Linked DNA regions of Homo sapiens: region 2 is linked to region 1. A link means that fine-mapping ties the variant in region 1 to the expression of a gene that starts in the linked region. Tissue or cell type: whole blood. Region 1 holds a variant in brackets; the other region holds the start of a gene. Each region is shown on its reference strand, or each on the opposite one. Region 1 overlaps ARPIN-AP3S2 (ARPIN-AP3S2 readthrough). Region 2 holds the start of KCNH3 (potassium voltage-gated channel subfamily H member 3).

The links. PIP is the estimated chance that this variant, and not a neighbour inherited with it, causes the effect. A credible set is the group of variants that fine-mapping cannot tell apart.
Region 2: KCNH3 starts here. The variant in region 1 is the best candidate, but not a certain one, in a credible set for the expression of KCNH3 in whole blood (TOPMed, PIP 0.51).

What each region holds. Positions count from the first base shown.
Region 1 is chr15:89,902,897-89,908,261 of GRCh38, forward strand. It overlaps ARPIN-AP3S2 (ARPIN-AP3S2 readthrough), which reads right to left. Exons shown (of 10, transcript NM_001199058.2): 4 at 881-1,087; 5 at 320-483. ARPIN (actin related protein 2/3 complex inhibitor) reads right to left here. Exons shown (of 6, transcript NM_182616.4): 4 at 881-1,087; 5 at 320-483. Among named protein-coding and RNA genes, the nearest start is that of ARPIN, 7.4 kb to the right of the region's middle. The variant T/C (reference allele first, on the strand shown) is at 2,248.
Region 2 is chr12:49,535,997-49,541,361 of GRCh38, forward strand. It overlaps KCNH3 (potassium voltage-gated channel subfamily H member 3), which reads left to right and starts at 3,034. Exons shown (of 15, transcript NM_012284.3): 1 at 3,034-3,496; 2 at 4,903-5,136. The coding sequence starts at 3,421. RefSeq lists silencers at 1,995-2,114, 2,845-3,024 and enhancers at 2,342-3,153, 3,154-3,963, 4,608-4,657.

The sequences.
Region 1 (5,365 bases):
TGTATTCACTTGAAGTAGAAATGTTTTGAGACTTAATGACCATGATTAATATCCCTCTGCACCCCCTCCTTCCTACCACTTGGGAATCTTTGGGGAATAGTTAGGTTCAGAGCCACCTACAAGAAAGGTCCCAGGTTGTCATTCTTCATACCTTAGAGGAATTCTCCTGATGCTAACACATTCCCAGGTGTTTCACAGAATTCCACTAAAGCTGGGGGGTAAGATTCATCCTGTCGTCTTCTCATCCTACCCACAACCTCAACCAGTATGTACCATGCTCCTGCCAGGAGATACAACTGCACCAACACCAGGTACCTACCCACTCCTCGTCCTCTGCCCCATCCCCCTGCTCTCGGATCTCCGCTGCAGCCCCCTTCGAACACTTTTGGGCCATGATGTTGTCTGTCCAGGATGCCCCTGTCTTTCCATCACCAGTGAAATTACACTTGGTCACTGTTCCAGCCTCAAGTTTGGCCAATGAATCTGAAAGAAGAGATGAAATTGAATGTCCTCTGTCCCTGTGGCAGAAACATAGTGAGGGCTGGGCCCATTATGGTGGGGTCCCCTAGGCCTGGGTTAAACCACTGTTTTCTCCAGGCATAGATGTGGTCAATGAGCCCCTGGGTGGGACCCCCAAGGTATGGTGGGAGAGTCGCTCACAGGAACCATGGGATTGGGTGGCACCCGGGGATCCAGGCTGTCGAGCCCAATGGCCCTAGGGCACTTGTGCAGGGATTTAGGAGTAAATCTCAAGGGCTTGGTCGTGTCCCCATGGAGGCCAGCCCTTGCCTGCTCCCATGAGCTCTAGGCAGAAGGGAGGCCAAGAGCCCCCATGGGCCACACAGGAACAGTGGGCCACAGTGAGGGTTGCATTGCTCACCCAGGAAGGGACCATCGCCCCGAGTCTTCAGCCGTACCCCGGCCCCCAGCTCGAGTTCCATCACCTCCATCTCTGACTCGGGCATCCAGAACGCCACTGTGTGGTCGGGGGTGAGGCTCTCTGTCAGCGCGAGCAGCTCTGGCTTGTTGACCAGCCCCTTCAGCGCCTCGGGCGTGAGCCTGTCAGTGTCCCCCTTGGCTTCCACCTCTGCAGGCACAGAGCGCAGGAGGGTCATTATCACTGTGGCAGCAAGAACTTCCGGAGGGCCTCTCAGGAGCCAGGTGAGGGCTGAGTGTTTCCAAGCTCAGTCACCCGGAGGCTGGGACTCAGTGCCCATTCTGCGAGTCCTCATCAAGGAACTCCACAGCAGAGGCGGACAGGCATGAGCTGGGGACAGGCAGCCTGGTGCAGATCTGGGCTCCACAATAACTTAGGCAAGTTACATCACCTCTCCGTACCCGAAAAATAGGATAAAATCAGAACCTACCTGACAGGACTGAAATGACGTATAAAGGAAATAAAGCATGTAGCACAGCGCCTGGCACATGGACCCCTAGGTAAGCATTCATATGTTTTCACTATTCCCATCTTACAGATGAGAAAACTAAGGCTTAGAGAAGTTCAGTAATTAGCTCAAGGTCACACAGTAGTAGAGGAGGCAGGATTCAAAGCACCCCAACACATTCCATCTTGAGACCCCGGTGGCCAGGCAGGGTTCTCTCCAGGCTCTCAGGGTCTACCTGGCTGGGGTGAGGTCTACTGGAACCAGGAGTAAACTCTGGTAGTCCCCCTCCTCTCTCCTGGCCCTGGCAGAGTTCATGGACTAAGGGAGGAGTCCTAAATCCAGGTGCTGGATTAGGGAAGGGGCACTCCCGGACTGTGAAGTGGGCCCAGCCTCCCAGGACTGTGTGTTCACAAGGCCACACCCCAGCACAGCAACCCCGGAGCTTGTCCCACAGGCTGCCTGCGCCACGCCAAGCCCAGGTGGCCGCACTTCACTGGAGAACATCCCAGCCAACCCATGAACACATTTCATGGAGCACATTCCATTCATGGTGTACAACCTCAGCCAACCTCTGCCAGGGGTGCCTTCTGGGACTGCACAGGTGGCTGCTCCCACAGGACTGCTCCATCCTCCTCAGCCCTCTGCCCTGACACCCTCTAGACAGAGCATCTCACTTTCTTTGCAAGGTAACAGAAGCCATCAAGTGAGACCTCTCACTTCCCTGACCACTCACCTGTCAACCCTTTTTTTTTTTTTTTGAGATGGAGTTTCGCTTTGTCACCCAGGCTGGAGTGCAGTGGTGCAATCTCGGCTCATTGCAACCTCTACCTCCTGAGTTTGAGCAATTCTCCTGCCTTAGCCT[T/C]CCGAGTAGATGGGATTACAGGCGTGTGCCACTACACCCAGCTAATTTTTGTATTTTTGTTAGAAACGGGGTTTCACCATGTTGGCCAGGCTGGTCTCAAACTCCTGACCTCAGGTAATCCACCCATCTCAGCCTCCCAAAGTGCTGGGATTACAGGCGTGAGCCACCACGCCCAGCCATCAACTCACGTCTGACCACACAAAACATCTCCTCTTTCCTTCTGTCTCAAAGGATAGGAGGCCTCTCCTCCTGCCTCAAGCCAGCTCCTCCATCTGGGCTGCAGATAGACCCCTTCCCCCCTCCTGAGGACCTGTCTCTCTCTCCCCACTCCTTGACCTTTCCTCAAGGCCTTCCTGCGTTCTGGCTTTGACACCTACTGCTCCAGACCCCATGTACCCCCACCAGAGTCACCGGTGAGCTCTTAACCTGCAAACTTCTTGGATGCTCCATATCTCAGACCTAACTAACCCGTGGGCAGTGCCTGACCCCACTGCTAGCTCCTCACGCCTGTTCCCCTTGGCTTCGCGGGGCTTTAGAGACATGACACCTTCCCATCCCTCGGACCTTTCAGTGGCTCCATCTCCTGCTCTTCCTTCTCCATCCATCTCCTATTGTTGCTATTTCCCAAGACAACCTCCTGGGCCCACTTCTTTTCTCCTCCTGGGTAACTGGGTCCACTTCCATAGCTTCAATACTCTCGATGTGCTGCAGCCCAGTTCTCTCCCCAAGTTCTAGAACTATCCTCCAAGGCCTCAGTAGACCTCTACCCAGCAGTGCTCCTGGCAACTCAAACTCAGTGTGTTCCAAACAGACCTCCTCCCCACAAACCTCTCGCCCCTCCATTTCCCCAAGTCTGGCACCGATGCCCAACCCCTGGCATCATCACGACTCCTTCCTCTTCCTCCCCAGTAGCCAAGCCAACACTGAGGCCACTGTGCCTCCTCTAGCTTGAGCTCCTCCAGTCTCTGCACCCCCACTGACAGGTCCTTAATCCTGGCCTTCTTATCTCTGTCCTAGGTGACCCTAACAGCTTTTTCACAGGCATCGCTGGGCTCCAGGCTATTTGCCTCCCTGGAGATTTTCAAACACAGACCTGATCACATCACCTGCCTACTTAAAACCTCACTACAGGGCTGCCCTGCACCCTTGGTTAGAGTTGAGCTCCTCAGTGCCCGCCCCTCCTGCTGCCTGCCCTGCATGGCTTCTCATACCTGGGTCAGGAACTCTTCAACTGCCAGGCATTGGGCACCCTCTGCCTCTCTGAAACACCCTGCAAATCCCTGGCACCTGGCTGACCTCTGCTTATCTTTCAGGATTCAGTCCTGTTATTCCCTGCTCTAGGGCATCCCCAGCCATGCCTGCCTGGGCTCAGCACCCTTCACGGGATCCAGGCCCGGGCCTGTCCATCTCCTCTACTGGACTAAGAACATTTCAAGTATACGACTGGGTCTTGTTCATCCCTGGACCTCTCAGCATGTGGCACAAGGGCTGGCACATGATATAGATGGTCCCTAATGTTCAGAGAGTCAATGAGTAACTGAAGGTATGAATGAATAAAGTGATAGAGTCCCACTCAACCTCAAAACCTTCTCACCCAGGGGCAGACAGCAAAGAGGCTCAACCAGAGACAAAATCAGGAAGAAGAAGAAGATCATGGAGGGCTTGCTATGGTTGGAATGTATCCCCCAAAATTCGTACGTTAACAGGAGGCTGAGGCAGGAGAATCGCTTGAGCCTGGGAGGCGGAGGTTGCAGTGATCCAAGATTGAGCCACTGCACTCCAGCCTGGGGGACAGAGCCAGACTTTGTCTCAGACAGCAAAAGAAAAGGAAAAAAAAAAAGTCAAACTCAGCTGCCTTTCCTCCACTGATGGAGTATGGACATAATGCCTAGAAGTAAAGTGGCCATCAAAAAGTATTATTATTATTATTACTATTTTTTTTTGAAACGGAGTCTCACTCTGTTGCCTAGGCTGGAGTGCAGTGGTGCAATCTCGGCTCACTGCACCTCCACCTCCTGGGTTCAAGTGATTCTCCTGCCTCAGCCTCCCAGATAGCTGGTATTACAGGTGCACGCCACCATGCCCAGCTAATTTTTGTATTTTTAGTAGAGCTGGGGTTTCACCATGTTCGCCAGGCCGGTCTCGAACTCCTGACCTCAAGTGATCCACCCACCTCGGCCTCCCAAAGTGCTGGGATTATAGGCATGAGCCACCACACTCACCCTAAAATTTTTTTAAAAAAGAAAAAAAATCATATGTTGAAACTTAATCACCAATGTGATAGTATTAAGAGGTGGGACCTTTAGGAGGTGAGTCATGGCATACGAGTGGGATGAGTGCTTTACAGAAGAGATTGAAGAGAGAGCCGCCTTGCCTTCTGCCATGTGAGGACTCAGCAAGAAGGCACCGTCTCTGAAGCGCAAAGCAAGCCCTCACCGGACACTGAATCTGCTGGCACCCTGACCTTGGACTTCCCCGCCTCCAGAACTGTAAGCCAGACATTTCTGTTCTTAAGTAGGTGCAGTGGCACACACCTACAGTCCCAGCTATTCTGGAGGCTGAGGAGGGAGGATCACTTGAAGACTATAGTGTGCTATGATTGCACCTGAGAATAACCACTACACTCCAGCCTGGGCTACATAGCAAAACCCAGCCACTAAAAATGCACAAAGAAACAAAAATTTTAAAAATTAAAAATAAAATAAACAAACACATTTCTATTGTTAATAAATCACCCAGCCTAAGGTATTTTGTTATATAGCACGCACGGACTGAGACCCCAGAACCAAAAGAGGATTTGGGCAGTAAAACAGAGACCGCCTAGGGCCTGGCCTGGGCTCTGCACAAAGGCAGTTAGAGCCCAAAGCCAGGTTTGTGGGTGATTCTGCCAGATACAGGAAATGGCAGGAGGTGGGAAGGCCAGCCTGGCCCCTGGAATGGAGGGGAGGGAACGGGGATCCTCTGAGTAAATGGGAGGCAAGGCCAGGGGTGGATGTGGAAGCCTCAGGCCACATACAGGGCTTCAACATCAAGAGGGCTGAAGAGACACTTTCCAGGGGCTAAGAGGCTCAGAAGAGAAAGGCCGCCACACTGCAGGAGGGCCCTGAGGGAGAGAGGG
Region 2 (5,365 bases), not on the chromosome of region 1:
GTTTAAAGGCCCAAACAGGCCTTTGACTTTTCACTCTGCAATAAGAATGGTAATAACATTCCATAAATATTAGTGTATTTTCTTCTCCTGGAAGTGGGAACCAGGGCAGCAAAGGGTGACATGGGCATTGTGCCTGGAGCTGCTGGAGGAGGCAGTGCACCTCAGACTAGGGACTTGACCTCGCTGCCCCAAGTTTTTCATCCGTGAATTGGCAGTTATAGCTAATAACTAGCTCATAGCGTTATTATGAAGATTAATGGGACGATCCAAGTAAAGCACTTTGCACAGTGCCTGGCACAAAGTTAATGCTCAATAAGTGTAAGCTGCTGTAATCCTCAGGGGCACCCCACACATTCCATCTCACCCTGATCACCCTAACCCAAGGTGTCTGGTTTGGCTTAATGCCCAAAACCAGCCCCAGCAGGTGAGCTGGAAGCCTGAAAGTCTAAACACTTAGGCCTTACAGGGATAAGTGTAAGGCCACCCAGACATGCTACACAAGCCCAGATGACCAGTCCTCTGAGTGCCCACACAGTTAGGCTAGAGAGAGGTAGACCCAACGACCTAGGGCTGGGAGACTGTCAGGGTTCTAACCCTGGCTGTGTCATTTATCAACTCTGTTACCTTGAGCAAGTCTCTCTCTCCCTCCTCCTCCCCCTCCTCCTCTTCTCCCTCTCCCTCCCCTCCTCCTCCTCCTCCACCTCTTCTTCTTCTTAACTTCTTCCTTCTTCTTCCTTCCTCCTTTCTCCTTCCTCCTTTCTCTCTTCTCCTTCTTCTCCTTCTCCTCCTTCTTCTTCTTTCTTCTTTCTTCTTCTTCCTCTCTCCCTCTCTCTCAGCTCTGGTTCCTCCTTTGTGAAATGGAGCATAAGGAGCCCCCACCCTGGCTGTTTCACAGGGCTCCTAGGAGACTCAAAATCAGACAACAAACATTTACATGTTGCAGGTGTCACACACTGTTCTAGATCCTCTACACATACTCACTCATTGAATCCTCATTACGACCCTCTGATGTTATTATTAGCATCCGCATTTTACAGATGAGAGAACTGAGTCAGAGAAGGGTTAATAACTTGCCTTTAAAAATCACACAGACAGGCCAGGTGTGGTGGCTCTCGCCTGTAATCCCAGCACTTTGAGAGGCTGAGGCGGGCAGATCACCTGAAGTCAAGAGTTCGAGATGAGCCTGGCCAACATGGTGAAACCCAATCTCTACTAAAAATACAAACATTAGCGGGGCGTGGTGGCGCATGCCTGTGGTCCCAACTACTTGGGAGGCTGAGGCAGGATAATTGCTTGAACTTGGTCGGCATAGGTTGCAGTGAGCAGAGATAGCTCCAATGCACTCCAGCCTGGGCGACAGAGGGAGACTCCGTCACAAAAAAAAAAAAAAAAAAAAAAAAATTCACACAGACCAAAATTAAAAAAAAAATTTAATCACAGGGACAGCAAGTGGCAGACCTGGTTCCCAAGTGGGTGGGTGATTTCAATTGTGGCCTTATCCTGTCTCAAAGTGAACTGACTCCTAAAATGTCCTTCTTTTTAGTAGACAGCTGGACCGCCGCCTGGAGAGGAAGCCTTGAACGGCTGGGGGAGGGGATTACTTTACAGCCAGGATCCAGCCAAGGCTGGGGATGAGATGGGAGTAGGATCTCCCGACTCCTTAGGGTCACTCCTCAGGGTCACTCCTCGTCCTGGGGACCAGATTCCAGGCTTCACAGGACCGGAGAAGGAGGAGCGCGTCCTCCCTTCCCAAAGCGCCAGCTCATTTAGATACAGGTGCCTGGGGCTTTGGCTCTCGTCGCTGATGAGGGGTAGCATCTTTCTGATGCTGGTGACTGTGAGTGCGTCTCGAGGGATGGGGGTGCTGAGCCTACCGCTTCGCTCGTTAGGGAACAAATTGCTGTTTTGGCCCCGGCGGCTCCTCTGGGCGCGGGCGGCAGCCGCGCTCGCTGGCAAATCGTGGGAGGGAGGAGGAGCGGCGCTGGCAGGCAAGTCCGGGGGACCGTCGCAGCGCGGGAGGCCAAGAAAAGACGGCCGCCCCGGGCCCGGCTCCGCCCCGCCGGGAAGGGGCTCCCTGCAGCCGCCCCAGGGCAGCACCCCGCGCGGCGCCGCGCGGAGCTCTCCAGGACGAGCTGCGTGAGGCGCGGGGCTCGGCCTTCCTCGCTCTCCTGGTGCCAGGACCCGCACGCACAAGGTTCGGAAGTTTTTTCGCAGTGTCTGACCCCTGCCGGTCCCCTGTATTTACCACCTGACCCTCTAGCGCGCTTAGGAGAGGCAAGAGGTGACAAATGCCAGAGGGAAATGGAGGGGCAGGACAAGGGGTCTGGCGCTCCCCTCCCCACCACACACCCTTTCCGCCCACGGGGTCACACGGAGGACGTCTGACCCTTACTCCTAGGGCTACCCACCCTCTGGTTTCCAGGCAGCTCCTGCTTGCGGAGACACCTCATAGGAGCAGCTGGATCCATTTTCCAGAGCGTCAAGTTGAGGATGAGAAAGTCTCGAGGGCCGGGCAGCTGTGCGCGCAGAACCCCCGCCCCATCTGCTTTTAGATTTCCCGGGTGCGGCTGGAGCCCCTCTAGAGCGCCGGCCTCCGCTGGCCGCAGGGCCTTCACCTGCGCCTGTCGCCCTGTCCCCTTGCCCACTGCATTTTCCTCGGGGAGAGCATCTTCCACAGCATGCGTCCCCTGCCCCCCACGCCCCGAGCCCCCCTCCCATTCCGCCGGGGGAGGAGAGGCTGCTAGGAGGCTCTCGGAGAGCCCCCGGGCTGCAGAGAAAGACGCCTCCCCTCTGCGGCTGAGGCCGAGTGAGCCAAAGGGGGCCGGCCGCTCGCCAGTGGTTCTCCGAGGTACGGGCGGGGAGGCCCGCGGGGTGGGATCAGGGCGGCCGCCACCTCCCCGCCCCCGCCGAGGTCCCGAAGGGAGGGGAGCCCTCCGCGGGAGGCCTGTCCCTTTAAGGAGGCGGCCCTGGCTGGGTGTGCCCCGTCTCCATGGTTACCCCGGTGCAGGCGGCGGGCGCGGGAGGGAGGGAGGGAGGCTGCAGCTTCTCCCCGACAGACGGAGGGAGCTGCCGAGAGCCGGCGCCGAGCGAAGCCGAGCGGAAGCCCACCCGCAGCCGACACGCGAGCCGCTGCCGCGGCGGGAGGTGCTGAGAGCGCGGCGGCCGCGGGGCCTGGAGCCCGGGATTTGTGGGCGGCGAGGGCGCGAGGGGCCGCGCGCCATGCTCCGGGCCCCGACGGCGCGGACGCCCCCTCGCGCGCCAGCGTCCGGCGCGACCCCGGATCCCGGTCTGCGCATTGCCCCCCGACGGCTGCGCTAGGGAGCGCGGGGCCCGGCGGGGGGCGGCCGAGCTGGGCGCCCTCCCCCGGCGCGGAGTCCCCGCACCCCGGAGGGATGGGGCGGGCAGCCGCGGGCGCCTAAGATGCCGGCCATGCGGGGCCTCCTGGCGCCGCAGAACACCTTCCTGGACACCATCGCTACGCGCTTCGACGGCACGCGTGAGTCCGACCCTCGCCCACTTGCACCCGGGCCGCCGGACCCTCGCCAGGGCTCCCGCCTTCCCCGAACCCCCAGCAGCCCAGCTTGGCGCCAGCCTATTCTCACCCTCTCCTCCCTACCCGCCCCTCTTGAGGCTGGGGCCATCGTCTCCTGCTAGGCGCTGTTTCCCCGAAGGTTCGAAGGTTCGGGGTCAACACTGCTTCAGGCGAGGCAACAGGGCCAGAAGTCCCTGGGTGTGGGTCCTGGGATGCTCTCTGTTAGCCGGGTCTCGAACCCGAACCTAGTCAGTCTGACCCATCCCACCCCTGCGTCTGGCGCTGTCGCAGCAACTACCCTCGGACTGGTGGGGTAAGGCGAGGCGGGTGAACAGTGCTCAGGGACAGCTGAGAGGGCTCAAAACACAGATTTAGAAAAGAGATTTGCAAACGGAGATAAGAGTAGGCGGCACTCGGGAGAGCACCGTGTGTCCAAGCCCCGTGTCTCATAGCCTGAACCCCCTAGACTTGGGGAGGCCATCTAGCCCCAAGAAGATGGTTTGGGGACTCCCATCAGGACTGGGGAAGTTTGGAGAAGGCGCCCCGAGCTCTGGATCCCCGGTTCTGGGGGCTCTGAGCACAGGGGAAGTGATGAAAGCCCCTCCCTCCTCCTCTCCCTCACATCCCCCGTGGGGCTTCCCAGCTCTCTGCCTAGGTCCTCCTTGGTCTCCGGTTCCTGATAGGGGGTGGGAGCCCAGCCCTGCGCTCTCCCCACTCCGGGCTCCTCCATCTGCTTTGCCAGTGTGCTTGGCTCCTGCAGCCTGCTGATTCAGTGCCCCCCACTCCCCAATACATTCCTGGCTCCTGGCTCCCGTGCTCAGTCACCATTCTTACACCCCCATTCTTGATCACATTCACTAATTCCTGAGCCAGGTCAGGCAGCTAGGGCTAAAACACAGACAGCAGGATGTATGGTGGTCTGGGGTTGCCTCCAGTCTAGGTGTGTCTCAGTGGGAGAAGCCAGACAGCCAACCTGGGTACCTGGCTAGTGGGTGAGCCTGGCAGAAGTAGAGGTGGGGCTGAGGCTGGCCCAGAGCTGGCAGGGCAGTCCTCATTAGGGATTCCCCAATCCCAGCCCTTACCCCACATTGCTCAGGACACCCTCCAGAAGGCACAGTGCCCGCACAGCGCTTCATTCACCGACCTCAGTTCACATGTGCTGATCCTTGAATGTACTCACACCTGCTGCAGGGCACTGACAAACAGGTGACACACACTGATTGCTATTCATAAACAGCCCTGCCTTAACACACGCAGGATTCCTGGGGTTTGGAAAACCCACTCTTTGGTTGCAGGCATTTGAGAAAGGAGGGGTGGTAGGCCTCCTGCCCCTTCACCCCACGCCTCCTCTGAGAAGTGCTCTCTTGCAGACAGTAACTTCGTGCTGGGCAACGCCCAGGTGGCGGGGCTCTTCCCCGTGGTCTACTGCTCTGATGGCTTCTGTGACCTCACGGGCTTCTCCCGGGCTGAGGTCATGCAGCGGGGCTGTGCCTGCTCCTTCCTTTATGGGCCAGACACCAGTGAGCTCGTCCGCCAACAGATCCGCAAGGCCCTGGACGAGCACAAGGAGTTCAAGGCTGAGCTGATCCTGTACCGGAAGAGCGGTGAGGGGCCACCTGGCCAGCCTGCCTCACCTTTGCAGTCTCACCCAGCCTGGCACCAGCCCCATCCACTGTCCCTCCTCCTTTCTGTTGCCATCTTCTCCATCTCCCCATGTCATCCCATCTTCCCATCCCCCCATCCAACCCCTCTTGCTCCATCCCACCTCTTGCCCCGGCTCCCCATCTCTACCTGCCTCACCCTAGCCTCAGCCTGCATTCAGTTCCAACCTCG